4 separate regions of the Homo sapiens genome follow, and all the other regions are linked to region 3. Evidence: fine-mapped QTL for protein levels in blood plasma. A gene starts in region 3. Each other region holds a variant in brackets. All regions are shown on one strand. Distances are between the middles of the regions.

What was found. PIP is the chance, under the fine-mapping model, that this variant and not a neighbour inherited with it causes the effect. Protein levels are from antibody-based Olink assays in UK Biobank. Linkage for the fine-mapping came from a reference panel and not from the study's own genotypes, which makes the PIPs less certain.
Region 1: its variant is fine-mapped to the plasma level of the PDCD1LG2 protein (UK Biobank, PIP above 0.99).
Region 2: its variant is fine-mapped to the plasma level of the PDCD1LG2 protein (UK Biobank, PIP above 0.99). The variant lies in the coding sequence of PDCD1LG2. If it changes the protein, the assay may bind it differently, which can mimic a change of level.
Region 4: its variant is fine-mapped to the plasma level of the PDCD1LG2 protein (UK Biobank, PIP above 0.99). The variant lies in the coding sequence of PDCD1LG2. If it changes the protein, the assay may bind it differently, which can mimic a change of level.

What each region holds. Positions count from the first base shown.
Region 1 is chr9:5,463,323-5,471,447 of GRCh38, forward strand. It overlaps CD274 (CD274 molecule), which reads left to right. Exons shown (of 7, transcript NM_014143.4): 5 at 2,177-2,284; 6 at 3,448-3,507; 7 at 4,518-7,232. The coding sequence ends at 4,540. All of the region lies in intron 2 of INCR1 (interferon stimulated noncoding RNA 1), which reads right to left. Among named protein-coding and RNA genes, the nearest start is that of CD274, 17 kb to the left of the region's middle. The variant G/A (reference allele first, on the strand shown) is at 1,987.
Region 2 is chr9:5,518,536-5,526,658 of GRCh38, forward strand. It overlaps PDCD1LG2 (programmed cell death 1 ligand 2), which reads left to right. Exons shown (of 7, transcript NM_025239.4): 2 at 3,998-4,066. The coding sequence starts at 4,012. INCR1 (interferon stimulated noncoding RNA 1) reads right to left here. Exons shown (of 3, transcript XR_007061406.1): 2 at 6,001-6,094. Among named protein-coding and RNA genes, the nearest start is that of PDCD1LG2, 12 kb to the left of the region's middle. The variant TG/T (reference allele first, on the strand shown) is at 4,040.
Region 3 is chr9:5,506,495-5,514,637 of GRCh38, forward strand. It overlaps PDCD1LG2 (programmed cell death 1 ligand 2), which reads left to right and starts at 4,037. Exons shown (of 7, transcript NM_025239.4): 1 at 4,037-4,309. The region is part of intron 2 of INCR1 (interferon stimulated noncoding RNA 1); the gene reads right to left. RefSeq lists enhancers at 2,585-3,784, 3,726-3,805, 3,866-3,925, 4,086-4,135.
Region 4 is chr9:5,530,630-5,538,629 of GRCh38, forward strand. It overlaps PDCD1LG2 (programmed cell death 1 ligand 2), which reads left to right. Exons shown (of 7, transcript NM_025239.4): 3 at 4,116-4,421. All of the region lies in intron 1 of INCR1 (interferon stimulated noncoding RNA 1), which reads right to left. Among named protein-coding and RNA genes, the nearest start is that of PDCD1LG2, 24 kb to the left of the region's middle. RefSeq lists an enhancer at 940-989. The variant C/G (reference allele first, on the strand shown) is at 4,295.

The DNA.
Region 1 (8,125 bases), 43 kb before region 3:
TGGAATATACCTTTTGTTCCATGCATTGTAGTACTCATTGGATACACATAGAATAATAAGACTCAGTTCACACTCTTCAGGAAACAGATAAAAAACTAAGAAACAAACAAAAAACAGGCAATCCAACACCATGTGGGAAATGCTTTCATAGCCGGGAAACCTGGGGAATACCTGAGAGGAATACTCAATTCAGGCCTTGTTTCAGGAATCCAAATCCTGGCACATCAGAGCTGCTTCCCTCTTTCCAGGGTGGCAGGAAATAAATGGAACATATTTTTCTATCTTATGCCAAACATGAGGGACCCTTTCTCCCCGGTGCCTCTCCCAAGGTAGTCTACAATATTTCAACTCTAGCAGTCTGCTTAGTGCATAGAACATGAGGCTGTGTGTCCCTGGGCAAATTACTAGACTTCTGTGTGCTTCACTTTCCCTGTAGGATTATAATCTACTGAGCAAGCTTATTGTAAGGGTCAGATTAGCAACAGTGTATGAAAATGATTTGAGACCATTGCCTGCACAAATTCAACTATTTTTTTTTATCTCACTACTCTACAGAAGTAGGTAGGGTGGGAGACAGAGTCTGATGAGAGGCTCAGAATGTGAAAGAAAGTGAGGCGAGTGAGCATGATATTTAATATAAACACAAAGATATTCTGAGAAGAGCTGCTCACTGCCCCCTCCCCCAATACATGTTGATAGGAAAATGCCACGTACTTCAGCAAAAACAACTGAAAAATTAGATAGAAAAGTCAATCAATAGGAAAAGATAATCCAGGACGGTGTTGTGAACAGAAAGAGGGGGAAAAAACTTTAGAAAATGATGGGGATGCTCTTACTGGGGTACGAGTCCTCAGGTATTGAACTGGCTTTCAGTAAAAGCTAGATTAGTGGGTTCCTGCCATTTACAAGCTGTTTTATGACAACTTACTTGTTGGGTGGCCTACAGTAACTCACCTAACTGCACTGAGTCTGTTTCCTCATCTGTAAATTGGGGATTTTTTTTTAAATACCTGGCATGCCTAACTCATAAAGTTGTTCTGAAACTGAAATAAAACATACGTGAACAGGCATTGTAAACTGTAAGTTACGGAAAAAGCTGGCTGTTGTTGTGTCTTTAAAGTTTCACCTGGGTAGTCAAAGATGGATCATGGGTCTCAGTGGAGAGCTGAGCCAGGCAGGAGCTGACTAAGGGTGAGAGGTGGGAGTTAGCAGCCTCTGAACATCTGTGTACCATGGGACCCCCTTTCCTCCTGCATGGTACCCCAGACAAGGAGCCTAGTAAGAGATACTAATGGCTTGTTGTCCAGAGATGTTCAAACTGCAGAGAAAGATAAGACAACAAGCATTGGCCTCCAATCATGATGACAGATAGGAGGAGGTGGGAGCTCCTTAGCAGTGCTGGTTGGCCTTCCATGTTCTACTGTGGGCCATCTCTGCCATGTACTGTAGGCTACTAGCTTCTATATTAAAGAATGCAAGAGGGGCCAGGAGCGGAGGCTCATGCCTGTAATCTCAGCACTTTGGGAGGCCAAGGTGGGCAGATCACTTGAGGTCAGGAGTTTGTGACCAGCCTGGCCAACATGGTGAAACTCTGCCTTTACTAAAAATATAAAAATTAGCTGGGTGTGGTGGTGTGCACCTGTAATCCCAGCTACTCGGGAGACTGAGGCACAAGAATTGCTTGAACCTGGGAGGCGGAAGTTGCAGTGAGCCCAGATTGCGCCACTGCACTCCACCCTGGGCAACAGAGAAAGACTCTGCCTCAAAAAAAAAAAAAAAAAGCAAGAGGAAGTGAAATAATCAAGGCCGCCATTTAATAGTGAGCAGCCACTCCATGTGGTACTGTGCAAGCACATTATAAATATTAGCCTCACAAGAAATGTATTAGCATTTGTATTTTGTACACTGGTTAAGTATCTTGCCCAAGACCTCAAAACTGGTTAAGGGCAGCAGAATTTAGCCCCAGCACCACCTTTTCAAAGCCTG[G/A]GCTTCTCACACTTCTCCATGCTGTTCCCATTTTAACACAGGTATCTCGCCATTCCAGCCACTCAAACTTTGGCATTTAAGAAAATTATCCTAAAGCTAAACTAAACTTCAAGGATGACCATTCTCCTGACCCCTTCCCATCAAAATTTTATCTTTAGTCAGTTTGTTTTCGTTTTGTTTTGTTTTTCAGAACTACCTCTGGCACATCCTCCAAATGAAAGGACTCACTTGGTAATTCTGGGAGCCATCTTATTATGCCTTGGTGTAGCACTGACATTCATCTTCCGTTTAAGAAAAGGTAGTATTTCCTTAATTGCAGTGGTCTCCACTGGGGGTGAGGAAGGGGTGAGAATTGGATCATGGCTGCAAGGAAACCCGACTTAACCTCTGCAAGGTGGTGCAAAGGCATTCCACTGTTCAACAGCAATTATATTGAAGCTGAGTGGGATCACTGGGTGAAGATGAAGCGTAAGGGGTGAGGGGCAGGAGAATGGGTATGGATGGAGGTAGAAGATGCAGTGTCATACAGTTTTTTTCTATCATGAAAATAACCACAGACTTACAGAAGAGAAAGAGCTAAAATGCCCGTCATTTTCAGTTGCATTTTAGTCTTGCATTAGTTGCAACCAGCTGGTTTCTGGGTACCCTAAGTAATAAAAATAGTTCCTCTGTAGAACTGTAGTATGTTTACCATAGAGTATTTTGCAAAATTTTTGGTAGAGGATGTTACATAATTTGCATGTGTTCATTTCTCCATTTACCTGTGGGAACAATTAAAATCCAGGAAAATGAGTATATTCAAATAATTTCCTCCCATTTAAGATGAGTCAGAGTAAATAATTCCTCCAATACTTAGAGAAGTATACCAAGAGATCCAGTGATGGTATAGAGTTGTCTGATGTTAAATAGGGAAGTAGAATATGGAAGGGGATTCCAATAGTCGTTGAAAAATTCCCCATAACCCCTTACATGGGGGAAAGTAGTGTTAACTGAGAGAGTAGAGATAAGCTGTTTCCAAAAATTATATTCTTAACAGGACTGAGATAGCCAGAATATAAGGATCAAGTTTCAATGACAGTAAGATCCTGAGATGGAGTTGATTTGCACAAAGAAATAATTGTTGCCAGCATGCATTTTGAATATTTCTCTGGAAAAAAAGATTAGTTGGCAGTAGAAATGGATAGAAATCAATAGATATTAAAATACCTCAGAATTTGGTTCATCTCTGGGAAAAGATGAAAAATAAAAGTGTATACTCCTCAAGAACATCTAGGATCAAAAGCATGTGCCCTACACTATTGAATTAATTAACCTCATAAGTTGGGACCTGTGGAATAAGGATGTCCACCAGACTTCCTAGGGATTACAAATGTTTCACAGAACTTGAAATTTAAACTTGGGTCACTGTATGGGATGTAGAGCTGTGCTATATGGAAATAAAAATGATTTCTTTTTCTCAAGGGAGAATGATGGATGTGAAAAAATGTGGCATCCAAGATACAAACTCAAAGAAGCAAAGTGGTAAGAATATCAGAAGGAATTGGGAAGTAAAAGTCAAAGGAAACAAAAAGCTAAAGCAATAACAAAGAGAAATCCATCAGTCATAATCTCCTCTCCTTTTAAAGAATGCTGGTTCCCCTTTGCCTCACAGCTAACACAAGAACTCCTCCACCGTCTGAGGAGGTTTAGGAGCAGGGAAGGGGAAGGAGTCAGCTTCATTTGCTAATCTTCTGTTGCCCTGCACCCTAGCAGCTCCTTGCAGCAGGGGACAAGGATGACTTAGGTGGATGGATAATTAATTGATTCTAAAATATTGTGTGTCAGTATTGTAATACTATGTTAATTGCACCATGCACGGTATCTCATTTAATCCCCCACCCCTTGCCATTACCAAAGAGAGAGAGAGAGAGAGAGAGAGAAATACTAGAATTTATCCTCATTTTACAGTAGAGAAAACAGAGGGTCAAGAAGATAATGTAAAGTGCCCAAGAACACACAGCTGATCACAAAAATCAAGCTTGGGGGCCATTAGCCTAACCACAGACCCTTACTCTTAACCCATCTGCTTCAATCCATTTTGCTACAAATGTTTACATTTATAAGCAGGGCAGAAAAACCTCATCCAGGTTATTGAACTAAGAAGAAAGTTATATTAAGGTTTCTAATTTTTTTAATGTAGTTAGAAACCAAACTTAACAATGAGCCCAAGTTTAAAGCAGTCTAATTAACCTGGACAAGCTCAGGCAAGTTTCATTCTGTGGCCCATAGCATCATCTGTGTTGTAAAGCTAAGTAGCAAATGTTGTTTGGGTCATGCTGGGGGACAAGCCATCCCAATTTGCTCAGGACTGAGGGGTTTTCCAGGATATCATGTAAGGATAATTGGGTACAAATATAACCTGCTGCTTTCTCTCATTTCAAATTTATCATTTATCATATCAGCAACTATGAGTTATGTTTTTTATTAGATTTCTTGTTACTTTTTCCCCAGACCACTTCCCATGAAATTAATATACTATTATCACTCTCCAGATACACATTTGGAGGAGACGTAATCCAGCATTGGAACTTCTGATCTTCAAGCAGGGATTCTCAACCTGTGGTTTAGGGGTTCATCGGGGCTGAGCGTGACAAGAGGAAGGAATGGGCCCGTGGGATGCAGGCAATGTGGGACTTAAAAGGCCCAAGCACTGAAAATGGAACCTGGCGAAAGCAGAGGAGGAGAATGAAGAAAGATGGAGTCAAACAGGGAGCCTGGAGGGAGACCTTGATACTTTCAAATGCCTGAGGGGCTCATCGACGCCTGTGACAGGGAGAAAGGATACTTCTGAACAAGGAGCCTCCAAGCAAATCATCCATTGCTCATCCTAGGAAGACGGGTTGAGAATCCCTAATTTGAGGGTCAGTTCCTGCAGAAGTGCCCTTTGCCTCCACTCAATGCCTCAATTTGTTTTCTGCATGACTGAGAGTCTCAGTGTTGGAACGGGACAGTATTTATGTATGAGTTTTTCCTATTTATTTTGAGTCTGTGAGGTCTTCTTGTCATGTGAGTGTGGTTGTGAATGATTTCTTTTGAAGATATATTGTAGTAGATGTTACAATTTTGTCGCCAAACTAAACTTGCTGCTTAATGATTTGCTCACATCTAGTAAAACATGGAGTATTTGTAAGGTGCTTGGTCTCCTCTATAACTACAAGTATACATTGGAAGCATAAAGATCAAACCGTTGGTTGCATAGGATGTCACCTTTATTTAACCCATTAATACTCTGGTTGACCTAATCTTATTCTCAGACCTCAAGTGTCTGTGCAGTATCTGTTCCATTTAAATATCAGCTTTACAATTATGTGGTAGCCTACACACATAATCTCATTTCATCGCTGTAACCACCCTGTTGTGATAACCACTATTATTTTACCCATCGTACAGCTGAGGAAGCAAACAGATTAAGTAACTTGCCCAAACCAGTAAATAGCAGACCTCAGACTGCCACCCACTGTCCTTTTATAATACAATTTACAGCTATATTTTACTTTAAGCAATTCTTTTATTCAAAAACCATTTATTAAGTGCCCTTGCAATATCAATCGCTGTGCCAGGCATTGAATCTACAGATGTGAGCAAGACAAAGTACCTGTCCTCAAGGAGCTCATAGTATAATGAGGAGATTAACAAGAAAATGTATTATTACAATTTAGTCCAGTGTCATAGCATAAGGATGATGCGAGGGGAAAACCCGAGCAGTGTTGCCAAGAGGAGGAAATAGGCCAATGTGGTCTGGGACGGTTGGATATACTTAAACATCTTAATAATCAGAGTAATTTTCATTTACAAAGAGAGGTCGGTACTTAAAATAACCCTGAAAAATAACACTGGAATTCCTTTTCTAGCATTATATTTATTCCTGATTTGCCTTTGCCATATAATCTAATGCTTGTTTATATAGTGTCTGGTATTGTTTAACAGTTCTGTCTTTTCTATTTAAATGCCACTAAATTTTAAATTCATACCTTTCCATGATTCAAAATTCAAAAGATCCCATGGGAGATGGTTGGAAAATCTCCACTTCATCCTCCAAGCCATTCAAGTTTCCTTTCCAGAAGCAACTGCTACTGCCTTTCATTCATATGTTCTTCTAAAGATAGTCTACATTTGGAAATGTATGTTAAAAGCACGTATTTTTAAAATTTTTTTCCTAAATAGTAACACATTGTATGTCTGCTGTGTACTTTGCTATTTTTATTTATTTTAGTGTTTCTTATATAGCAGATGGAATGAATTTGAAGTTCCCAGGGCTGAGGATCCATGCCTTCTTTGTTTCTAAGTTATCTTTCCCATAGCTTTTCATTATCTTTCATATGATCCAGTATATGTTAAATATGTCCTACATATACATTTAGACAACCACCATTTGTTAAGTATTTGCTCTAGGACAGAGTTTGGATTTGTTTATGTTTGCTCAAAAGGAGACCCATGGGCTCTCCAGGGTGCACTGAGTCAATCTAGTCCTAAAAAGCAATCTTATTATTAACTCTGTATGACAGAATCATGTCTGGAACTTTTGTTTTCTGCTTTCTGTCAAGTATAAACTTCACTTTGATGCTGTACTTGCAAAATCACATTTTCTTTCTGGAAATTCCGGCAGTGTACCTTGACTGCTAGCTACCCTGTGCCAGAAAAGCCTCATTCGTTGTGCTTGAACCCTTGAATGCCACCAGCTGTCATCACTACACAGCCCTCCTAAGAGGCTTCCTGGAGGTTTCGAGATTCAGATGCCCTGGGAGATCCCAGAGTTTCCTTTCCCTCTTGGCCATATTCTGGTGTCAATGACAAGGAGTACCTTGGCTTTGCCACATGTCAAGGCTGAAGAAACAGTGTCTCCAACAGAGCTCCTTGTGTTATCTGTTTGTACATGTGCATTTGTACAGTAATTGGTGTGACAGTGTTCTTTGTGTGAATTACAGGCAAGAATTGTGGCTGAGCAAGGCACATAGTCTACTCAGTCTATTCCTAAGTCCTAACTCCTCCTTGTGGTGTTGGATTTGTAAGGCACTTTATCCCTTTTGTCTCATGTTTCATCGTAAATGGCATAGGCAGAGATGATACCTAATTCTGCATTTGATTGTCACTTTTTGTACCTGCATTAATTTAATAAAATATTCTTATTTATTTTGTTACTTGGTACACCAGCATGTCCATTTTCTTGTTTATTTTGTGTTTAATAAAATGTTCAGTTTAACATCCCAGTGGAGAAAGTTACTTGGAATATTTGCAGCCTTGTTCCTAGTTCTTTTTTCATTGCTTATACAGCATGTTTTTATACAGCATGCTTTTGAATCCTGCACAATGAAAAAAGTATCAAAAGATTTTATTTTAAAAAAGAATGTATTGAAAATTTTCATTCTCTCTCATTCGGCAGCTTCCTTTAGGACCATACCAAGAAGAGTCAAAATCCTGTCATCTACATTGAAGATCTAAGGGAGAGAGGGTGGGAGAGAAGGAGTGGAACCCAATAGAACTATAGGGAAACAAAGGGACTTACCTCTAAGAAAGTACTTTTCCCAGATCTGTAAACGGGTATGCAATCCAGTGTGTAGGAAGATAGATGTATTGCAGTCTTCAAGTTTTGAAAATAAAGCGAGGAAACTAGAACTAAGCCAAGTTGAGGATTAAGGGCTAGCAATGGTTAGGACCATAGATCTGTGGTTTTAAACAAGCATGACAAAACTTATCATTCAAGGAAGTATAGACCTTTTAATGTGTCATCCGGTGAGATTTTAGTCATGAAATTCCATTTTAAAAGACTATCACTTATTTGAATCAGATACTCTTAAAGGATTATAATGGCTATTTCTAAGAATATGTGTTTGACTCTAGATGCTTTTGTTTGTTTGTTTTTGAGACAGAGTTTTGCTCTTGTCACCCAGGCTGGAGTGCAATGGCACTATCTCAGCTCACTGCAACCTCCGCCTCCAGGTTCAACTGATTCTCCTGCCTCAGCCCCTCGAGTAGCTGGGATTACAGGCACCTGCCACCACTCCTGGCTAATTTTTGTACTTTTAGTAGAGACAGGGTTTCACAATGTTGGCCAGGCTGATCTCGAACTCCTGACCTCAGGTGATCCACCCATCTCAGCCTC
Region 2 (8,123 bases), 12 kb after region 3:
GCATCTGAATAAGGAAGGCTATCTTCTGGTCAAGCTAAGGTATGCCATGAGCATTTCCCTGTGGAAAGCACTTAATTCTGTTCCCAGTTGTTACCTGCTGTAAGATCTCCCTTTCTAAAATAAAAACAAGAATACAGCTCACTGAGGACCTTACATTTCCCTCTAGCTACTGACTCATTTCTCTTCTCCTTTTTATAGCACTCTTCTTGAGAGAGTTGCCTATATTTGTTGCCACATCTTTACCCATTCTCTTTTGAACCTATTCAAGCTTTCATCTGTACAAAACTCACTGATACTGTGCTTGTCAGGATCATCCATGACCTCCATACTGCTAAATGCAACTCTCAAGAGTATTTGGCTCTACTGATCACTCCTTTGTAGCACTGTGTTTTAAAATATAGGTTTTATTATTATTTAGGTATGGTGAGGCCAATATATCAGGAAATGACTGTCGTTGAAAAAAGTATGTTGTACTCACAGATCCCAAGAGAAGGGGGGCACACCATGCCACAAAGGGCCACATGGGGAAGCACCAGGGTCAGCCAGGAGGTGGGTGGGGGGTGCGCAAGATCTTTATTGTGGTTTCAACAGGAAGAAATGGGTGAAGCAGGGTGAGTGGATTTAGGATTAGCTGATATAAATAATTTCAGCAGGCTCTGGGGCATAGGGGCTGTCCCTAGTCTTCTGGTACTTGGCCCTGGGGTGATTAAGGCAGTTGCATAGTGTTGGGAATGTGAAAGCCCCCAATAAATGAGGCAGTTGTGGGTATGGGCTCTGAAATGGGTTGGTTTGCATTTGAAAGGTGTGCTCATGGGCAAGTGGTTTACTCTCTCTTAGAGGTTAGAATTGGCTAACCCTGGGAGCGGCAGTCCCTTCAGGGTCAGCAAGGCCCCAGGTGTCAAAGCATCAGAATACAGAAAATAAAATGCATGGATAATACACACTGCCATTTGCCTTTGTACCCTTCCTTTCAATCTTCTCTGCTGGTGACCGCTCTTCACAAAGATCTATAAATGTTGGAATACCCCATGTCTCAGTCCTTGGGCACTCTCTTTCCTATCTCTCTGTAGGTGATGTAATGCAGATATCCATGACTTTAAATCTTTAACACTTCTGCATTGATGACTCCTAAATTTACATCTCTACCCCAACTGCCTACTAAACACCTCCACTTGGCTATCTAATAGGCATTTCAAACCAAATCTACAACAAACGTAACTCTTTTTCCCCTTCCTTAATTTGCTTCTCCCCCAGCCTTCTCCATTTTAATAAACAGCATCTCCATTGCCTTAGTGACTCAAGCCCCAAACTTAGGAATTTTCCCAGATTTCCCTCTTTTTCTCAAACTATATATCTAGCCTGTCAGCAGTTCCCTTCAGGTCTTTTTTCAAACTATAGAAGGCCTAAACAAAGGAAAGACATGCTGTATTCATGAATTGGAAGACTAAATATTATTCAGCTGGCTGTATTCCCCAAATTGATCTATGGATTCAATGCAATCCCTACCAAAATTCCAGCTTCCTTTGTCTGCAGAAATGAGCAAGTTGACCCTAAAATTCATTTGAAAATGTAAGGAAGCCCGAATAGCCCCCTAAAAAAAAATCTTGAAAAAGACTAACAAAGTTGGAGGACTCACACTTTCCAGTTTCAAAACTTACTACAAAGCTACAGTAATCAACGCTGTGTGGTACTGACATAGGATAGACATATAGTTCAATAAAACAGAATCGAGAGTCCAGAAATACATCCTTATATATATGATCAATTGATGTTTTGCAAGGGTGCCAAGACAGTTCAATAGGGAAAGAATAATTTCCTCAACAAATTGTACAGGCACAACTGAATGCCCACAATCAGTAGAACAAATTTGGAACTAAAGTTCTTATATTTAGGTTCTTGATCCATTTTGTTTAATTTTTGTATATGGTATGAGGTAAGGCTCCAAATTTGTTCTTTTGCATGTGGACATCCAGTTGTCCCTGTACAATTGCTCCATTTATATTTATCTTAGCAGAAAATACAGATGTAAATCTTTGTGACCTTGACTAGGCAATGGTTTCTTAGGTATTACACCTAAAGCACAAACAATAAAAGAAAAAAGTAGATAAATTGGATTTTTTTACTTAAAATCAATTTGTGTTTCAAAATTAAATAAAATCAAAATTAAATTAAAACATTTATCCTTCACAGGATTCTATAAAGAAACTGAAAAGACAATGTGCAGAATGGGAAAAAATATTTCCAAATCATATATTTGATAAATAGTTTGGCAATTCCTCAAAAAGTTAAATATAGAGTTACCATTTAATTCAGCAATTCTACTCCTACATATGTACCCAAGATAATTAAAAGTATACATAGACAAAGACTTGTATATGAGTTTTCATAGGAACTTTATTCATAATAGCCAACAAGCAGAAACAATCCAAATGACCATCAACTGATGAATGGGTAAGCAAAATGTGGTATATCATACAATGGAATATTATTTAGTCACAAAAAGGAACGCAGTGCTGATATATGCTACAATACAGATGAACCTTGACAACATTATGTTCGGTGAAAAAAGCCAGCCACAAAAGTCCACATATTGCTTGATTCCATTTTTATGAAATATCCAGAATAAGCAATTGATAGAGACAGAAACTAGATTAGTGGTTGCCAAGGGCCATAGGGAAAGGGAAGGGGAAATAGGAAGTTTCTGCTAATGGGTAAGGGGTTCCTTTTCAGGGTAATGAAAATGTTCTAAAATTGGATAATAGTGTTTGTTGCACAACTCCGTGAACATACTAAAAACCACAGAGTCGTGCACTTAAAAAAAGTTTGTGTTTTAAATATATATACACACTTAGACACATATAACCCTCTTTCGTATATCAATTATACTTTAATAAAGCTGTTGAAATTTTTAAAATAAAATTTTAAAACAAAGAAAAAATATATAAACTCGCCAACAGACCACTTCTCACCCCTACTAGCCCCTCTACTCTAAGCTATCAGCATTTCTGCAAACACATTCCTAACCGATCTCACTGCTTGTAATCTTGCCAGCAACCTCTCCCTCTCAGCAATAGTCTATTGCCTACACCAAAGCTTAGTTGTCTCTTAATGATGTAAATGAGGTTCTATCATTCTCCTGACCCAAACCCTCCACTGCTTTTCATCACACTCAGAGCAGCTCTGCTGTTGCCTGATTTAGATGTATGGCTCCAACAGATTTCCCCTGAAGAAATGATTCCATGGCTGATAAAAGTTGGAAAGCCTCCTCAGTTTCAGACCATTATCAGATTAGCTGTGTGCTCTGTCCCTTTCCTCAACCATAAGAAGTCCATGGATAAAGAAAGCTTCAGAGTAAAGGAGAAAGCATGGGAGGTACAGCAGGACCAAGGTGGGGCATTCGCAGCCCCCACCCTCATCAGAGCCAGTTCCCTACTCTCCCTGTCTAAACCTCTTAGTAAGAGGTAGTTCAAGAGAGGGGCAAACTCAATTCCAGCACTCAAAAGCACTTGACTACTTTGCTCAGTCAACTAGCAAGTATTTATTGAGAATGTAGCTCTGTTCTATGGAGTCTTATTTTCAAGTGTCAGACTCCCAGACATCCAGTCCAGGTAAAGAAGATGGTGTCCATTATTCATTTGACAAACAAAGTTGGGGTTCAAGGGCCAGCTATTGAAAAAAGCTATGGAAAGCTTCATGAGACGTGCAGGTAACTGCCAATATGTGTGGTTCACAAGGACTGGTTCATATTCAGAAACGGCCATTAGAAAAGGAAGAAGAACTTCTCATTTGGATTTATAAAGAGTGTCTTGTTTACTCTTAATTTATATCTTCTCTTCTCCAGGAAATCAACCTATAACTTCTCCTCCCAGCTCCACTCTACCATGGTCTGTCACCTTCCCCAAATGATTTGTTATTCCCCTGTTTTCAAAAGTGAACAAAGAACCAAAGACCCAGCAAAGTTTCACAAGGCCCTGAGACTTTCAATTGTCTATTTCAGATCAAATACAGAACATGATCTTCCTCCTGCTAATGTTGAGCC[TG/T]GAATTGCAGCTTCACCAGATAGCAGGTAAGAAAGGACAAAGGGAGAGGCTTAAGAAAGAAGAGCAGGTGGTGGTTCCTAGCCAAAGCCAAAAATGAGAATGTGGCCCTCAGGCTGAGGGCTTTCTTTGAGAGGACGTATGATTTCTGGGCTATTCCAAGCACCACAAAAAAAAAAAGAGTCCCCATGGTGGCTTATACATGCCAATGTCCCTATCTGACAGAAACGGTGACTGAGAATATTGCTCCATCTATTCCCACTATCCAGTGAGGGTAATGACAAGAAGACAGGATCACTCAGACCATGTAAATCTAAACTGATACAAGAGGGCAGGGGTTGAGTTCCCTTAAAGGTGAGATGCCAAGCAGCTGTCCCCTTCCTTTCTGGCAGGGAGAGTAAGGAGACAATGGCCAGGGAACACCGTTACTCTAAAGATAATGTCTTGAAGACATTCTGCATATTATTAGTTGTTTCTGTGAGTTTCTTTTTTGAAAAGCAACAATAGCAGCCGTTGGTCATTCATACCTTAATGTGGTTTACTGAGTCTTCCTAAAACCCAAATGAACAATGAACCTTAAGGCTATCCCTTTGGACTTGAAGAAAGGACTTCTATTGGAGGATGAGGGTGAGCAGAAAGAAAAGCAGTTTCACAGTTGGTTGTTCTCCTGGGGAAGGTAGTTCAGACCATTCGAGGGTGTAGTTAGAACCATGAGTGCACTATTTTGGATGAACACCAGGAGCTAAGAGAGTAACATAGAGGTGTGGACAGAGGATTAAGTCCTCAAGACAATAGCCCCAGCCCCATGGGAAATCATCTTTCTGCTCATGATTGAGAAATAATGGCTCCCTTGGCACTTGATAACCTTTCGAAGAGCTTTCTCCTCCCTACTAGCTGGTTCCAGATCACTCTTCACCCAGTCACATTCCTCTCACTCACTTGAGCTGCCCAGCCTGGTCTGGCACTAGAGACATGCACTTGGGGCCCTCCTCAAAGGAAGACCCTGAGATATTCTGCTTACTTCTACTCTGCTCCTGCCTGCAGGGCCAGCTAAAGGAACTTTTCATGTTTTCTTTGCAAGGAACCCTGCCTGGCTGGCATTTTAGAGACAAGCAAAAGGGGCAATAACTTCCTTGCTACAAAACAGCTTCAAGTTTCCATAGAGTGATAAGGGAAATGAGGGCCAAAAGACACTGTTCCCCATCCTGTGGCAGGACTGGGGGCTTCAGGAGAAAACTTGGGGAATGTGTAACCTCTGTGGGTTTGTAGCTTAAAAACACTGAGATCCTGGGTTTTCTGTCTTTGTTTTTTGCCTTTTCTCTTAGGAAAGGAGTGAGCTAGGGTGACAAGGGGCAACATTTTTTATCCCTCATTGGCTCTTTCTACAGAGGAAGGATCTTTTCTTCTAAGATAATCAGCACAAGACAATGAAGATAGGCACTAGCTCCCAGTTAGGTATACTAATGGGGCAAAAGGAAGAGCATTTACATTTATTGAAGATTCACTAAATGCCAGATACTGTGCTAGGCAATTTACATATGGTATAGTTCATTTAATCTTCACAATGATCATTTTGCAGGTGAGGGAACTAGAACTCAGAAAAGGTACTTAATTTCCCCAAGATTACATAGTTATTAGGTGACACCGGCAAGATTTCAACAAAGCTAATGTCCTTTCTACTTTACTGTGCTACCATGATGATGGTAATCAAAAATGGCAGACAACCCATAAATCTTCCAACTTTGGAATAGGTTTTTGCACTGAAGTCTGAATATGGATACGTATTGAATGTTTATTCTGGATATTCACAGAATCAAAAAATATGTGTAATGAATTATGTTGCTGAATTAACTGAAAGGAAAGTAAAAATGTAGCGCTTTCTCATTTTCTTCACGAATTTGGAATTCTTTTCTGCTTTCCACTATGCAGATAACATCAGTTCAGACAAATATTAAATACCTACCTAAATTAGAATGCCTTCTCCTCATGGGATTTTTTTAAAATCTTGTCATTTCATGTCTCTTTAATTAAAGAGTTTTGATTTCAGAGGAGGGTACCTGCAAAAGAAAACAACAAAAAAACTAAAGGATCTGAGAAATAATTAGTGTTTACTTCTGGGGAGGGGAGGAGGTCTGGGATGGGGGTAAAAAGGATAGTCTTATCTATTATGTATATTCAGGTTTTTGTTTTTTACAAGAAGCATGTATTAGGTATTATTTGTATAATAAAATATAATTTTAAAAATACAAGAAATTTCTCATATAAAAATATGAAAGTAATCAGACTGCAACACTCAGTGCCTGAGACAGAGCTACAGCTATCAGGGTGTCCAGACAGACAGAAGATTACATTTTCTTCCTTGCTCCTTGTACAGCCCCAGACCTGCATGCTTCATTGAAAAGAAAAGAAGATACCTGAATTAAATCAATGTGATGCTTAGTACCCTATCAGTGCACATTTCTTTTCTATTTTTAAATTTTAAAAATAACACTTGGCCAGGCGCAGTGGCTCACGCCTATAATCCCAGCCCTATGGGAGGCCGAGGCGGGTGGATCACCTCAGGTCAGGAGTTCGAGACCAGCCTGGCCAACATGGTGAAACCCCTCTGTACTAAAAATAGAAAAATATTAGCCGGGCATGGTGGTGGCCACCTATAATCCAAGCTACTCAGCTGAGGCAGAAAAATTGCTTGAACCCAGGAGGCAGAGGTTGCAGTGAGCTAAGATCATGTCACTGTATTCCAGCCTGGGTGACAGAGTGAGATTCCATTTAAAAAAAAAAAAAAAGAAAAAAAAACACTTATGGCGGTATTCTCAGTCATTACAAATAAATAAAAACAATCCATATGCCCTGGAGAATTTGATTCCAGGAGTAGGTCTAGAAGAACTTCAACTGGAGAATGGATAGAGAAATCATGGTATATTTGCAGAATATATATTATATATATAATAGATAGCATGTGAATAAATTAATTACAAAAACATATGACTACATCTATTATTATATAGCATGTAGATAAATTACAAAAACATGTAACTACATCTATGAATCTTAGAGCATAATATTGAGTAAAAAATAAATAAATAAAAATTAAGGCCAGAAGATAACACATAGCACAATGTCCTTTTCATAAATAAATATATTGCTTAAGCATACCTTATATATAGAAGATAAAGCTTAAAAAGTAAAGAAGAGGCCGGGCATGGTGGCTCACGCCTGTAATCCCAGCACTTTGGGAGGCCAAGGTGGGCAGATCACGAGGTCAGGAGACCGAGACCAGCCTGGCCCGCATGGTGAAACCTCGTCTCTACAAAAAATACAAAAATTAGCTGGGCATGGTGGCACAAGCCTGTAATCCCAGCTACTCGGGAGTCTGAGGCAGGAGAATCGCTTGAACCAGGGAGTCGGAGGTGGCGGTGAGCCAAGATCACGCCACTGCACTCTAGCCTGGGCGACAGAGTGAGACTCCGTCTCAAAAAAAAAAAAAAAAAGTAAGGAAGAGACTGATAAGCCCGATATTCAGGACGCCAGTTACCTCTGGTGCAGGCAGACATACATCATTAGTAATGTGCTAGTTCTTAGGGTAGGTGGTAGGTTCACAGATGTTCATTTTACTTAATTAAATATATTTTGAAAATTTATTTAAAGCTTTCTGTTGTAAAATATATCACAGAGAAAACCACATGAAACAACTATAAAGCTTAACATTACTATAAGGTGATTACTTTTGTAACCACCACCCAGGTTAAGAAGAACTTTGTCAGCTCCCCAGAAATGCTTCACATACCCTAGCCCAATAAAACCTCCTTTGCAAATACTCTTCATAGCACTATCTGATATGCCCTTTATTTTTACCTTTTTTAAATTAAAACAAAACTTTTTAGAGACAGGGTCTTCCTCTGTCATCCATGCTGGAGTGCAGTGGCCCAACCACAGCTCACTGCAGCCTCCAACTCCCAGGCTCAAGTGAGTCTCCTGCCTCAATCTCCTGAGTAGCTAGGACTACAGGCATGTACCACCCGGTCTGGCTAATTTTTTAAACATTTTTAGTGATGGGGTCTTGCTATGTTACACAGGCTGGCCTCA
Region 3 (8,143 bases):
TACAAAATACTGCTAGAAGAAATTAGAGATTACACAAACAAATGGGAAAACATTCCATGCTCATGGATAGGAAGAATCAATATCATTAAAACGACCAAAGCGGTTTATAGATTCAATGCTGTTTCCACCAAACTACCAGTGATATTCTTCACTGAACTAGAAAAAAATATTTTAAAATTTATATGGAACCAACAAAGAGCCCAAATAGCCAAGGCAATCAAAGCAAAAAGAACAAAGCCAGAGGCATCATCCTACCAGACTTCAAACTATACTACAAGGGTACAGTAACCAAAACACCATGGTTCTGGTACAAAAACAGACACATAGACCAATGGAACAGAATAGAGAACCCAGAAATAAGGCTGCACACCTACAATTATCTGATCTTTGACAAAGCTGACAAAAACAAGCAATGGAGAAAGGACTTCCTACTCAATAAATGGGGCTGGGATAACTGGCTAGCCATATACAGAAGATGGAAACTAGACTCCTTCCTTACACCAGATACAGAAATCAACTTAAGATGGATTAACAACTTAAATGTAAAACCTAAAACTATAAAAAACCCTGGAAGACAATATAGGCAATACCATTCTGGACATAGAAGTGAGTGAAGATTTCATGACAAAGACACCAAAAGCAATTGCAACAAAAGCAAAAATTGACAAATGGGATCTAATTAAACTAAAGAGCTTCTACACAGCAACAGAAACTATCAACAAAGTAAACACACAACCTACAGAATGGGAGAAAAGTTTTGCAAACTATGCATCTGACAAAGGTCTAATATCCAGTATCTATAAGGAACTTAAACAAATTTACAAGAAGAAAACAAACAACCCAATTAAAAAGTGGGCAAAGGACATGAACAGGCGTTTTTCAAAAGAAGACATACACATGGCCAACAAGCATATAAAAAAGCTCAATATTACTTATCATTAAAGAAATGCAAATCCAAATCACAATGAGAGATCCTCTCACACCAGTCAGAATGGCTATTATTAAAAAGTTAATAAGTTGGCCGGGTGCGGTGGCTCACACCTGTAATCCCAGCACTTTGGAAGGCTGAGGCAGGTAGATCACAAGGTCAGGAGATCCAGACCATCCAGGCTAACATGGTGAAACCCCGTCTCTGCTAAAAATACAAAAAAATTAGCCGGGCGTGGTGGCGGGCGCCTGTAGTCCCAGCTACTCAGGAGGCTGAGGCAGGAGAATGGCATGAACCCAGGAGGTGGAGCTTGCAGTGAGCTGAGATCTCACCACTGTACTCCAGCCTGGAAGACAGAGTGAGACTCCATCTCAAAAAAAAAAAGTTAATAAACAACATGCTGACAAGGTTATGGAGAAAAGGGAATGCTTATACACTATTGGTGGAGTGTAAATTAGTTCAACCATTATGGAAAGCAGTGTGGCAATTCCTCAAAGAGCTAAAAACAGAACTACCATTCAATCCAGCAATCCCATTACTGGGTATATACCCAAAGAAATGTAAATCATTCTATCACAAAGACACATGCACACACATGTTCATCATAGCACTATTCACAATAGCAAAGACATGGAATCAACCTAAATGCCCATCAACGACAGACTGGATAAAGAAAATGTGGTACATATACACCAAGGAATACTATAGAGCCGTAAAAAAGAGCATGTCCTTTGCGGGAACATGGATGGAGCTGGAAGTCATTATGCTTAGCAAATTAATGCAGGAACAGAAAACCAAATACCACATGTGTTCACATATAAGTGGGAGCTAAGTGATAAGAACACATGGACACAAAGAGGGGAACAACACAAACTGGAGCCTAGCTGAGGGTGGAGGCCCCAGGGAGGAGGGAGATGAGCAAAAAAAAAAAAAAAAAAAAAAAAAAAAAAAAAAAAAATGACTGGGTTCTAGGCTTAGTATCTAGGGGACAAAATAATCTGTATGACAAACCTCCATGACACGAGTTTACCTATGTAAAATAAAAGTTTAACAAAAAACTAAAAAAGTTACCTATGTAAAACAAAAGTTTAACAAAAAACTAAAAAAAGTTACCTCCACCCAGAAATGCCTTTATTAACACTTTGGTTTGTAACCCTCCATTATTTTCTCTAGACATATAGATTTATGAGGCAGGCTAATGTGCTGAGACACTAGCTTGAGTTTCATTTGGCCTTGCTGTGAATATACCTGGGCCTTCCTTTGCTTCAGGATGCCCTAAACTGTGGCAAAGCAGAGCTGAACTGCCCAAAGGAAAGTGTGAAGAGGAGAGGCAGGCCAAGCCTGGAGAAAGGCTACCCAAGAGAGAGGAAAGGAAACTGTGGTGAGTGCACCTCACTCCTAAAGAAGGACAGGAACTCTGGTAGGTGAGGTGTGTTTTCCATAGATACTAAAACTCAAAGCCACACAGGGGACATATGTCCATTCCTCAGCCAGTCACTGTGGCCAGGAACAGAGGGTCAGGTAAGAGAATGGCAACTCCTAAGGAAACCACATGCCTGGAGCCGTGGGTGTAGAAGCAGATCCCCAGAGGAAGCACGGGTCCCACAGACACAGTCCCAACTCTTGCCGTCTAGGCAGCCACTCCCATCTGTAGGTACTACACAGCTTCGTAGTACTTCTTAAAGTACTTCTTGTTCAAGCGATGGGACGAAAAGAGGATGCAGGACAAGGAGGAGGAAAGGAGATCCTTGCTTTTGTAGAAGAAACAAGGAGGCAGGGAAGGCTTAGAGGACAGGCAAGGAGAGATGTTTTCTTAAAAACATCCTCTGTCTGAGTGTTCAGCCCCACATCTCTGCTGGTCCTACCCCTATAAGCACAAGGAAAAGGGCGGGAGGCAGCAGGAGAAGGATTGATCATTCAGGCCTATATTCAAGTTTGCCTTTTCTTGCCATGTGGTTTTAATCTCACCAATCACAAGCCTGAAGGTATAGTGGGGCCACTGAGGTCCGAGTTCAAATTCAGCCATGCAACTAAGGAAACATTGTTTGATCTTGGTCCTGTTTTCTCATGTGTAAAATGGGTCTAACTCTAAACCACACATTGCACTGAGAATGAAATGAGGCACTATGAAATGAAGTGAGGTTAGTTGAATAATGTTCCCCCCAAATTCATGTCTACTGAGGACCTCAGAATGTGACTATATTTGGAAGTAGGGTCTACGCAGATGTAGTCTAAATGAGGTCATACTGCATTAGGGTGGGCACTAATCAAACGGATGGTATCCTCATAAGAGGAGAGGAATGTAGAGATACACACAGAAAAGAATGTCATTTGAAGATGGAGGCAGAGATTGGAGTGATACAACTATAAGTCAGGGAATGCCAAGGACTTGAGGTCATGTGTTACAGAAGCCCTAGGAAATGAGTCAATTTCCTGGCACAGCACTAAGACATGCTGGTATTCTTCATTCCATCCCTTTCCCCTATTCCTAAATGTGCTCCAGGGACAATGGGGAAGCTGGAGCACATATAAGAATAGGGGAAAGAGAGGGAATAAAAGGGTATTAAAAACTCTCAAGGTATGTTAAAAAAAAGACTCTCAACAAACCAGGTATTGAAGGAACATACCTCAAAATAATAAGAGCCATCTATGATGAACCCACAGCCAACATCACACTGAATAGGCAAAAGCTGGAAGGATGCCCCTTGAAAACCGGCACAAGACAAGGCTGCCTTCTCTCACCACTCCTATTCACCATACTATTGGAAGTCCTGGCCAGAGCAATCAGGCAAGAGAAAGAAAGAAAAGGCATCCAAGAAGGAAGAGAGGAAGTCAAACTACCCATGTTTGCAGATGACATAATTTTATATCTAGAAAATCCCACAGTCTCAGCCCAAAAGCTCCTTAAGCTGATAAACTTCAGAAAGTTTCAGGATCCCACATGAACATACAAAAATCACTAGTATTCCTAAACACCAACCATAGCTAAGCCAAGAGCCAAATCAGGAATGCAATCCCATTCACAGACAAACTGCTAAAAGCAAAACCAAAACTTTCCAAATAAGCCAGGCTTTCGTCAGTTCCTCAGAACTAGTTCTGGTTTGACTCACTCTCATGTTACGGCAAACCTTAAGCTGAATGAACAACTTTTCTTCTCTTGAATATATCTTAACGCCAAATTTTGAGTGCTTTTTTGTTACCCATCCTCATATGTCCCAGCTAGAAAGAATCCTGGGTTGGAGCTACTGCATGTTGATTGTTTTGTTTTTCCTTTTGGCTGTTCATTTTGGTGGCTACTATAAGGAAATCTAACACAAACAGCAACTGTTTTTTGTTGTTTACTTTTGCATCTTTACTTGTGGAGCTGTGGCAAGTCCTCATGTGAGTAACGAGTGGGTTGAGATACTCTCATACTATTATGTTGTGGACCATGATGAGGCTGCCAGGGTGGGGGAAGGGTGGCCTACCTTCTCTCCACACCATTTGAGGCAAGAGACATTCTGCCTCAGAAATTGTGCTGAGGGGCACAAATAAGCTAATGTCCTCCTGCCCCAGATTTCTCTCACTTGTTCCTATGCATATTGTTCTTGTTGCTCAGTTTTATAAGGTGAGATATTTTCTGCACCAAATATGTGCACTGTAAAATAATATAACTATTCTTAAGATTGTCTCTCAGCTTAGAGTTTTCGGAGGCTTAATGGTGAAGAACTTAAAAATCTGTTTTCCTATGACTGACATCTGTTTGTGATTATCCATTTAGCAGACGGTGATCCCTCCAGGCTGGCCTTTGTTTACAAGCTATGCCTAAGAGGCAGCTGTTGGTGGAGGGGGAACAAAAACAAAAAACCCAAAACTATTATCTTAATAACTTATAGAGGTAATCATTATTGAACAAAAGCATGATTTGGGGACTATGGAAAGGCTTATTCTTTCCATATAAAATGATCAGCGAAAAGGTAGAAAAATTAAACAGAACTGAAATAATTGCTATTGATTGCTCACCGCCTGGATGCACTGAGTAGAAGAGCAAAGGCAATGGGTTCATGTGGAGGGGATGGAGGTGGAGAGGCTAAGCCTGAGTGAGATTACCAACTAATCAGGACTTTTAACCCAAAAATACTATGGCTCTGAGGGGCAGGGAATGAGAGACCTAAATTGACAAAATGCAGAGTAAAAATATTCAGTGTGAGCAGTAATGAGACAGTTGTATCAGGGTCAAATACGGAGTTGGCCTGGATGTCCTCCAAGCTCCTTTCCAAGCCTAAGATTCTGTGAGTGGATGAACAATCCTGGTCCTGCTGCTCTTGCCACTGGAACCTGATCTATTTGCCTTCATTATTTGAGGTCTCCCCATCATCAGGCTCTTTGTTGTCTGCTGCTTCAGGGTGTCTTCTCCCCAGATTTCTCCTGTTGGTGAGCTTTTCCATTGAACTGGAGCTCCTCACAGGCAAGAAGCACACCTTTAAGGTTCTCTGAGTCCCAAGTTCCTAGTGCAGTACCTGGCAATACACATAGGTGCTTAGTGGGTGCTTGCCGAATTGTTGAATGGATTTATTTGATGAAATGTCAGGAGAATCACCAGAAATGAAATGTTCGTGTAATGGACAGGGGGAAGTTTGAGGTTGATTTGAAAAAGGAGATGGTAGAGACAGTATTATGGGTCATGCTTCAGAGTTTATTTGCTTTACAATACATTGGACAGCAACCAGTAGATTGTTGTGTGTCATTTTAATTCCACATGCTAATGTCCAAATATGTCATATGTCTTAATTGTTGCATACGTGGGTTACTCTGTAAAGGGGCAACTGTAGTATCACCTCCTCATGCCACACCCTGCTCCACTGTAGCTGGGCTCGATAACCTTCAAATCAACTCACAGAATTCCAGGACAGACAAGAGCATCTGAAAGGTTATCTAGCCCCAGTCACCTCTGATGCCTTCCAGCTGTCTCTAACACACCTGTGGGCTGACTTCCAGTTCTTAGTCTTCACGGCTCCCTATGATGAACTGCCCCTGCTTTGAGGGATTTTCCTCCATTGCCTCAGAAGTACTGCCCTGGGGGAGCTTCTGATGCTCTTCTGACCACCTTGTCTCTGCCTTTTTCACTAGTCCTCTGTTCCTGCTCTCCAAATTTTGGGACGTTCCTGAGTTCAGATCTTTTCTTTATAATCTTTCTTTTATATTCTCCCCATCAGATGGTTCATTCATTCCTCAATATTAACTAACATTTCCATATTAGAAATAACTTCCTTATCTTTAGCCCTAAATTTTGTCCCAAACTCTGGACCTACAATTTTTTGGAATGCTTATGCCTTGCCCAGACTAAAACCAAACTTACTGTCTTCCCTCTAAAATCAGCTCCCCATCTTCTATTTCTCCCTGCCACCCTTCCTCCCCCATGGCTCCAATATTGTCTTGCCAGTCTGGTCTTAAAACCACAGTCAATCTTGTTGCTTTTCTCTTTGTCTCTTGTGCATGGCTGATCAGCAGTCAATTGTTTTGTCAATTGTCTTATATGTTTCTTCTTCCTCTTCCTTGCTTCCTTTTTCTGACCTGAAGTTAGGGCCTTGTTACCAAACATCTAGATGAATACAGTGACCCCCTAATTGAGAGGCTGTCTACCAATTCCACCCACCCTCAATTCTATACTCAAAAAAAAAATTAGATGTAATCTTTTTCAGATACTCCTTTGGTATTGTCACTTAGTTTTTGAGTGACTGCCACTATTTCCCGATTGGCAGCTCTGCCTGGCATTAAGCTCTTGACATTCTCAACCTAAGTGTCCAGCCAAGTTACTCTGTTCATTGTCCCCTCAACACGCCTGTGCATTTGCACCTCTGAGACTGCTTCTGAGTCAGCTATGCACTGCCCTTTAGAATAGCTTCAACCCCAAATCCTACCAGTGCTTCAAAGGCCCAGTTCAAATCCTACCCCTCTGGGAAGTCTCCCTTCCTTTAGTCAACTTCTAGGGCTTTTGCAATTTTATCACTTGTTTTACATCAGTTTTACTATTTTTCATGTGTGAGAGTTTTAACCTTCCAATTATGGTACAATGTCTTTAAGGGCAAGGGCCCTTTCTTAGAGGAAACCCTCTATGAATTCTCCAATGATAAATTATTCTATGAATTCTCACAACTTTCTAATATAAAGGCTTATAAAAAGTGGGAACTCACTGTTTATTGCTTAAAAAATTGAGATTTAATTTGAACTTAAATGCTCTATTAAATTGAGTAGAATAGCATCTTAAGGCTACTGGTAGTCTATCTATGCCACAGATGGTTTAGAGATCAAATAATTACTCATATACCTATGACAGCAGAGTACTGGCTGTAAGATCCCCCCAAAACTCAAATACCTATTGGGTTTGTCAGGCAACAAAAATAAGTGAATCCAGCTAGGTCTAATACAATGGAAAATGGTAGGACCTGGGGCAAACTCTGCATAACTTGCCCAAAGGCATTCAAATTCAGATTATGTTCAGACATTGCTAATTACAATTAGTGTCTTAGACACTTGGCTTCAAAACAGTGGTTAGTTCAGGTATTTCAGATCAATTGGGTATGCATTTATCTAGGTCTTCATGGATAGCCGGGCTCTACTAGACACTGGGAGAGGGAAGAGGCAAATGGGATAAGACTGGCAGTATTTAACAAAGAATGAAGTATTTTACAAACATGATCCTTTAGGCTGGTTATTGTTACACAAAGGAATGATTTGCTAGGATTCTTGAGATACTTCCATAGAATGTCTATGCCTCACTTATTGCACAGACCAGAGAATTCCATAAAAGCACTGGCTGTGTCTTATTTACCCTTGTATACTAGAGCTTGGCACATAGTAAATACCAAGTAAATGTTTTGAATAAAAGAAAGAGATAATTAAAGCTTCAGCACCACAATTATTTGTATTTCATCTATCAGTTTGGAAATAGATCTCCACAGACAGTAGAAATGGCAAGAAACTAGGCCTATAGCAACCAAGAAGTGAAACTGCTAGAACCTACCATCATTTCTGATCCTCTTGCAAATTTTGCTTGAAAAAAATTTCCTCATTTTCTGTTTACGAACTTATCCTCAGAATTTACAGATGTTTCCTTGATTTCTCTGGAAAGATACAACTTCCTAATGCAATTGAGTAAATTGATACTTCTTATGTAGAAATAAGCAGAATAAGCTGGGCAAGGTAGCCCACAACTATAGTCCCAGCTACTTGGGA
Region 4 (8,000 bases), 24 kb after region 3:
GGGCAAGTTGCATCACTTCTTTGAGCCTCAGTTTCCCCATCTGTAAAATGTGGATAGCAACATCTACCTCGCAGAGTTGCTGGGAGGATCAGATGAAATGATGGGCTAGCCCAGTGTCTGACTTACTGTGTTTAAGAAATATCAACTATTACGCTACTTCCCAGTGACAGTCCAAATGCAGACCAGTGTTATAACTCTACTTCTCAAACATTAATGTGCATGCAAATCACCGTGACCTTCTTAAAATGCAGATCCTGATTCCCTAGGTCTGGGGAAGGCTTGAAATTCTACATTTCTACCTAGCTTCCAGGTGAAGTTGAGGACAACACTTTGAAGGCAAGGTGGTAAAAGACGCTTGCACGTGCAAATGTTACTTTGTGTAACTAATGGTTCGCAATACTGTCTGCACTTTAGAAGCTCCCAGGAAAAGAAAATCTTTAATGATGCTGACCTCATCTCCAAAATAATGTAATTTTAACAGATCCAAAGTAGTGCCTGGGCATTAGTGTGTTTTAAAAGCCTCCCAGGTGATTCCAATGTTAGCCAAGATTGAGGCCCTCTGCTTAGTGAATCTAATTTGCAGCTGGGCTTGAGAAAAAACCTCTTCATAGAATTGTTTGCATCAGTGTCTTGATTGCCTCTGTAACTTACAATAAGCAAGAATGTTTCAGGATTTCAAAAATCTATTGCATTGCCTAAACCTCTTATTTTGTATGGAGTAATCAAGCTCAAAGTTTGCATGTCTTAGAAACTTTACTTGGGGCAAAATTAGACCAAGTAACAATTAATCTTCTAGGTATTCTGAGCTATTCAGACATATGATTCATGTTTGCTAATTGCTCTTTTCTCTTGTAAATATTAGCTGAAAAATGTCACCTGTCTGACAAGTAGCATATTTTATGCCTATCACTCCTGGCACGCATTCTTACAAGGCAGACAGGAAAAATAGGAAGAAAATGGACTTTTATCAAAGGCCCAGGCAGTAAAGAGGGGAGTTCTGCTGTAAGCTAAGGGGAGTTCCAGAGGAAGTTATAGGCGTTCCCTTTCTTATGACAAGAAAGCATAGTGCAGTAAATAAATTTGCTAAATAGATTCAACAGTCTCTACCCAAAGTCATCTATTTAATTCTTGTTGTTATGCAGACTCAGCAACTAACCTTCCTTGTAAGCCCCATTTTCTTCCCTGTTTCCTGTTTATCAAATGTAATTAAACAAGAGAAGTATTATAGAAGAGTAAAAGTAGTAGGTAATTCTTGAACTTGGCATATGATTACTACATATTTGATGAATAGTTGAATATTATTCTTCAAGGACAGATTGGATTTGGTATCAGGTGGCTCTGCATTAAGTTATAAGGGACTTAATAACTCAAGTATTTAAGGACGGCTTCCATCATAAAGGGATCTGCCCTTAAGAGGGTCCCATTATGGAGATTCTGAGGTGAGAGCTATTCCAAGTGTGCAGTGGATTAAAATAAAAGAATCATACAGGAAATCTCTTTTTACATGCCTTATTCCAGGGTCTTTGCAACCTGGCACAGCAAGTGCAGATATGATTAGCATTGTTTTACACATGTACACTCACCTTATAGCCCTGCCCCTGTGCCCCTCCTGCACAAAAGAATGCTGGGCACACGTGAACTCCTCTCTGTAGAAAGGCACATTAATGTTCTAGCCATGGTTAAAACAGGGATAGAGGCAAGCCAAAAATGTCGGTCATTTGAAATAAATCTCAAGTTTGTGCATATCACTATCAAGTGTGCTGTGTGGCAATTAAGAATGCCAATTTGTGTGATCACAGGCAAGTTGCAGTTTGATGAAAGGAAAGCAGAGGTGAATATATAACCAGGGTCATCCTTTCTTTCTCCCTCTCTCTCTTTCTGTCATTTATTTGCCAAGCTCTTAACTAGAACTTGCTATGTGCTAGGTACTGGATATATCAAAGCAAACTCAGCCTGGTCTTTGCCTTCAAAGATTTGCAGGATAGTGGGAAGAAAAACTTGAATCAGAGGACATCTGCAGTGGGAATCATTCAAGCAGCAGAAAACCCAAAAGTTACTTATACTGTGAAATCTGATCAGAGAATGGACTGTCCTGGTTAGTAAAATATCCTGGAGGATAAAGATTGGCCATGCATTCCACATATGAATTACCACTTTCCCAAGAATTAAAACATGGTACGAAAGAAAGGAACGAACATTTGCTGAGTGCCTACTGCCTGCCAGATCTAGGCACTTCACATGTAACACCTCGTCCAGCCTCCACCACAATACTGAGAGGTAGAGTTCAACCTCATTTTATAGATAAAGAGGCTGAAGCTCATAAAGATTAAAGGACGGACTCACAGTCAAAGGACTCCTAATCCTGAGTCAGCATTTGAACCCAGGCTCACCTGTCACTATATCCTATGCTCTTCCGTATCACATTTTATACTGAAACAACTTCTGGAATAGCTAATGCTTAGAAGCAGCTCCCAAATATTTGTTGAATGAATGATTTGATTGAATGAATGAATAAATGAATGAAGCAAGCTCTACTGAACATAATTTGATCTAATCTTCTGTGATTATTCAGAAACTACTTCAAGATTTTCCTATACCTCCATCATAATGAATACCCATTCATTAATGATGGAAGCAGCCTAATTTTGTCATTTTTCACACTTTATTGATGTAACACTACCTTTACTAGTTTGGCCACTCCTTATGCTTTTTTTATAGAACTATTTAGATCAATTCAACTTTTAAAAAATAAAGCCACATACCCCTGTGGTAGATGAAAAACAAGTATCATTTGCACTGGTAAATAGAGAATAGGAAGAAAAATAAATGCAGTGAAAATAAAGCAGTGTTATCAAATCCTACCCAGATACTGTTATCTACCCGGAAGCTTCCTGTTTGATTAAAAGGAAAAATAGCCAGTGTTAGAGGTGTGGAAGTCTAGTTGAAATTATATGCAATTGAAGGATTAAAATAGAATTGAAAAGGGAATAAATTCCTCTCTGAATAATTTAACTCCCTTTAGGCTTTGATTCTGCCTCATCTAAAATCATCTTACATACTTCTAGTGGCGTGTCCCTCACATTTTGGTAAACTCTGAGTGGAAACTACGGATTTTGTAGTCAAACATCTGACTGGCTCTGGATTTTAACTTTACTAACATATGTCCTGAAGTGAACTGCTTGGAGCCAGTTTCCTCAACTATATAACCATAATGACAAAACAGGTTTCACGGTCATGTTTTCAGTATTAAACAATATAGTTAAAAGTACCTAGCACAGTGCCTGGCATAGAACATACTAGATATACATTAAGTATCAGTTCCATTTTTCCTTTCCCTTTATTGTCAGAAAATAGAAAGCATCTACAGTGGGCTTGTATGATGTGGTGGTTAGAAATACCTGATCTGATTCTGGCTGTGCAATCTTGGGCAAGTTACTTAACCTTTTTGTGCCTCATTTTTGTTTTCTGAAAAAAAGGATAGAATATTATTACCTACCTTGCTGGCTTCTGGGAAGAAGCTCAGTGAGACGATGTGTTAGCAGAGTGTCTGACAATTGTAAGAATTCAACAAGTAATAGTTATTATTACCATCACTGGTGAGAGGAAGTGATACCTGGCACAAAAATATATGGATTAATCAATATGGATTGAGGGAAACAAACCTGGAGAATAGGATGTGAAGGTATTTAAGTAACATGAGCTCAGACCTTGATGGTAGGGAAGTCGAAAGGAAGCATTTTGTTCTTATATGACAGATGACCTGGAATGACTGCAGGGCTTGGGGGGTCAGGGACTGGAGGTGGGAGAGGCCTCTGAGAGCAAGCAGTGCTGTCCACCAGAAGCTCTTGCTGGGGTGCCCAGAGAGGAGCAAAGGGCAGTCAGCTGCACAGGAGGGAATGTTTGGAGGAGAGAGCCACCTCAGATCAGCGGGTCAAGAATCCCACTCTTGCCCAGATGGATGGGGCAAAGGAGAAAAAGGATTCGCCACGGGAATGTCCAGATAAGACAGGTGCCTTTTGGAAAATGGGGGTGAGATGGGTCTCAGGTTACACTTCGTAAGAACTGGAATGTAAAGTAAAGGCAGACAATGACAAAATATCTTGTTTTCTTTTCAGCTTTATTCACAGTGACAGTCCCTAAGGAACTGTACATAATAGAGCATGGCAGCAATGTGACCCTGGAATGCAACTTTGACACTGGAAGTCATGTGAACCTTGGAGCAATAACAGCCAGTTTGCAAAAGGTGGAAAATGATACATCCCCACACCGTGAAAGAGCCACTTTGCTGGAGGAG[C/G]AGCTGCCCCTAGGGAAGGCCTCGTTCCACATACCTCAAGTCCAAGTGAGGGACGAAGGACAGTACCAATGCATAATCATCTATGGGGTCGCCTGGGACTACAAGTACCTGACTCTGAAAGTCAAAGGTGAGTGGTGTCAAGGACTAGAATCCATGGAAGCATCTCTCCAACAGAGGATCTGCAAGTCACAGAAACCCATTAAAGGTAGCTCAAGCAAAAACAAGCAGGCTGCTTTTAAGGAGACAGCTATTTCAGAGAAAATGAAAGCATCTGCTCGGAAATAATTTTTGACATCTGAGTACAAAGCAGCCGAAGTACAAGTGAAAGGGGGTAGGACCTATAGGAATAAAATGGGACTGGAGGAAGCCAGGAAAATTAGTCCCTGAAATGTGGGAGGGTATGAAAAATAAGCTTTGCCTAATTCACAATTCTCCCATGGAACATCCCTGACTTGATTATTAAGATACTCTTTTTCAATAGTTTATACCCTGAATCCAGAGTTTTTAAAACCATGGTTTGCCGCCCATTCATGGATTAAAATATCAATTTAGTGAGTAGCAACCAGATGCACGTTTCCCGCCCTTTAAAAAATAATGTATAGAAGAGAATAGACAGAGTAGATCAGACGACATCACAGAGTAGGACTGAGTACTGTAAAACTAATTTCTGAGGGACGTGTGTGTGTGTGTGCGTGTTGGGTCATGGTATAAATTTTTTTTTTCTTACTTTGGATCATAAAAAGTTACAAGTTTGGAAAACACTGCTCAAATGCAAGCCCTATTTATTGCAGATGAAGTAGCTGAGATCCAGAGAAGGGAAGTGGGTAGCCCAAGAGAGTCCCATGAAGTCTATAGCTGTCCCTATTCCTCTGGATTCAGGGATCTCTCCACTCCAGCACAATTGAAAATCTAAATATAAAGAGAATCTTCACACTCTTGTTTGTTCTAGAAAAGGTGATTTGAGGAAAGACATATAACAACTATAAAAAATAGATTTTGCTTGTTCATTGGCTTATGGTCTCCAGGCTTGAATGCTCTGAGATAAATGATGCCAATATTTCTCTGGCCTCTTCCCCTCCCACGCATTGGACCTCAGATGGTCTGTACTGTCTTCTAGAGGGTTTGTGGGTTTTGGCCCCAAAAAACCATTAACCTTGGCAGAAAGTGTGTGACTTTATGATCTGGTACAAAGAAGGACAAACTAGAGGGACTGGACATGAGGATGAATATTGTGTTCGCCCTTATCCTTGGGCAGGTTATTTTGCCTTTCATAACCTCACATTTTGCTTATTTGTAGAAGACGAACAATAGTAGTACCAAACACACAGGATTGTTGTCAACATTGAGAGAGATAATGAACATAAAGAACTGAGCATGGTACCCGGCATATAATAAGTGTCCAGAGACTTGGTTAAAAGACCCTCAGTTGTTACAGGGGCAGTGACCTCCTCACACCTCAACCATCAATGAGTCACCAGGAAAGCCATTAGCCTAGATGTAACTGTTTTCTATCTTTATTGCATTTCCTACATCCAGGCAGCAGCTGGGAGGAACTCTAGAACACTGAAGTTTGTCTGAGTTCCCTTAATGTAAGGCTGTACATTCTCAGGATGCCTTGATGTACTCGAATATCTGCAACCCTAAATCACCACCTCTGTTTTTATTGATCTCTATCTGAATGCTGTATTAATGGGCCAGGCCTTCTGCCCATTCTCTCAAACTGAGAACTGTCTCTCATTCCTGGGGAGGCACCCTGCCTACTCCTTACCTAGATCAGGGATTTCTCAGTTGTGGAGAGATTTGTTCCTTATAGTGTTGGTCATCAAACTGGGATATTTGGGGATTACAAAGACTTTTCAAGGGATGTATGGGCACAGGCAGTTTTAGGAAGTGAGTTCCTAGATCCTCATCTTCCCCAAATACTCGTTCCCAAAATTGACGAGCCTGACAATGTGCATGCCAGGCAAGGCTCTTGGGGTTCCCCTAAAACACTTCCTCTTTTAAGCCTACCACTCACTCATCATGAATATAGTCCATTGTCCCAGGGTGTAAAACCCTCTATAGTGTTAAATAAAAGAATGATTGGGAACATTGACACCTGATGGAACTGTTATGACTAAAAACCCTTTTGCAAATAATGTGGTATCTAATTTTCTGCTTTCAACAAAATTGAAGGAGGCCCTTATAAAGTTAATAACTGATAATCAAAAATGAGTAATTTTTGCCATGTAAATCAGGTCAAAGAATGAAATGGCATTGCTGTAACGAAACTGCTTCCATTCCCATTGATTTACTCATACGAACAAGATTCCTTAGCCTTTATAAGCTACAAAAAAATGAAAAATAGAAATAGAATTGAGGCTGAATTCTATTATATAAAATCATTCCAACCATGTCATATGGTTCTTCGGATTCATGAATAATTTGGAAAAGAGAGCCATATCCATCTTATTAAGGGACACATTCCCAATAAATTTTCATCTTTCATGTTTAATAATTATCAATATTCATAACATTTTACATTTTGATCAAATATGTGTTAATAATAATAGAAATAAATGTCCAACAACGATAGACTGGATTAAGAAAATGTGGCACGTATACACCATAGAATACTATGCAGCCATAAAAAATGATGAGTTCATGTCCTTCGTAGGGACATGGATGAAGCTGGAAACCATCATTCTCAGCAAACTATCCCAAGGACAAAAAACCAAACACCGCATGTTCTCACTCATAGGTGGGAATTGAACAATGAGAACACATGGACACAGGGAGGGGAACATCACACACTGGGGACTGTTGTGTGGTCGGGGGAGGGGAGAGGGATAGCATTAGGAGATATACCTAATGTTTAATGACAAGTTAATGGGTGCAGCACACCAATATGGCACATGTATACATATGTAACAAACCTGCACGTTGTGCACATGTACCCTAAAACTTACTGTTAAAAAAAAAAATTAGATCTTAATGCAGAACACCCTGAACATTTAAAGCTTCATAGTCACAAGAGAAAAGTTTTCATTTCAATAGCTATAAATATTTTGTTGTTGTAAAGACATATAACGATAATCAATACAAAATCTGTCAAACAAAAATATGTTACATTAAGATAAAATTCTGTAGGGAAGGTGAAATTGGAAGTGAGTTTCAATGAATGAAAAGAAACAATTTAGACAGAGAAGAATTTTTTCATTTAATAATTTATTTATTTTTACTTAGAAGGAATTGAATAGATTAGGTTCCTTACCCAAAAAGCCTCTGTTATTTGTCTTATTTATTTATTCTCTTTTTTCCACATTCTCCAGTCTCATTCCCCTTTTTTAACACAGGAAATTATTCCAGCATGTTTCATACATATTCTTTTGTTTGTAAGAGCTTATTTAAAATATGTAATATTGTTTTAGATGCATATATTTTTTTTCTTGTGGAAACTATATTGTACTATATATATATATTTTAGAAATGGACACATTAGGCCGGGCGCGGTGGCTCACGACCGTAATCCCAGCACTTTGGGAGGCCAAGGCGGGTGGATCATGAGGTCAGGAGATCGAGACCATCCTGGCTAACATGGTGAAACCCTGTCTCTACTAAAAAATACAACAAAAATTAGCCGGGCGCGGTGGCGGGCGCCTGTAGTCCCAGCTACTGGGGAGGCTGAGGCAGGAGAATGGCGTTAAGCCGGGAGGCGGAGCTTGTA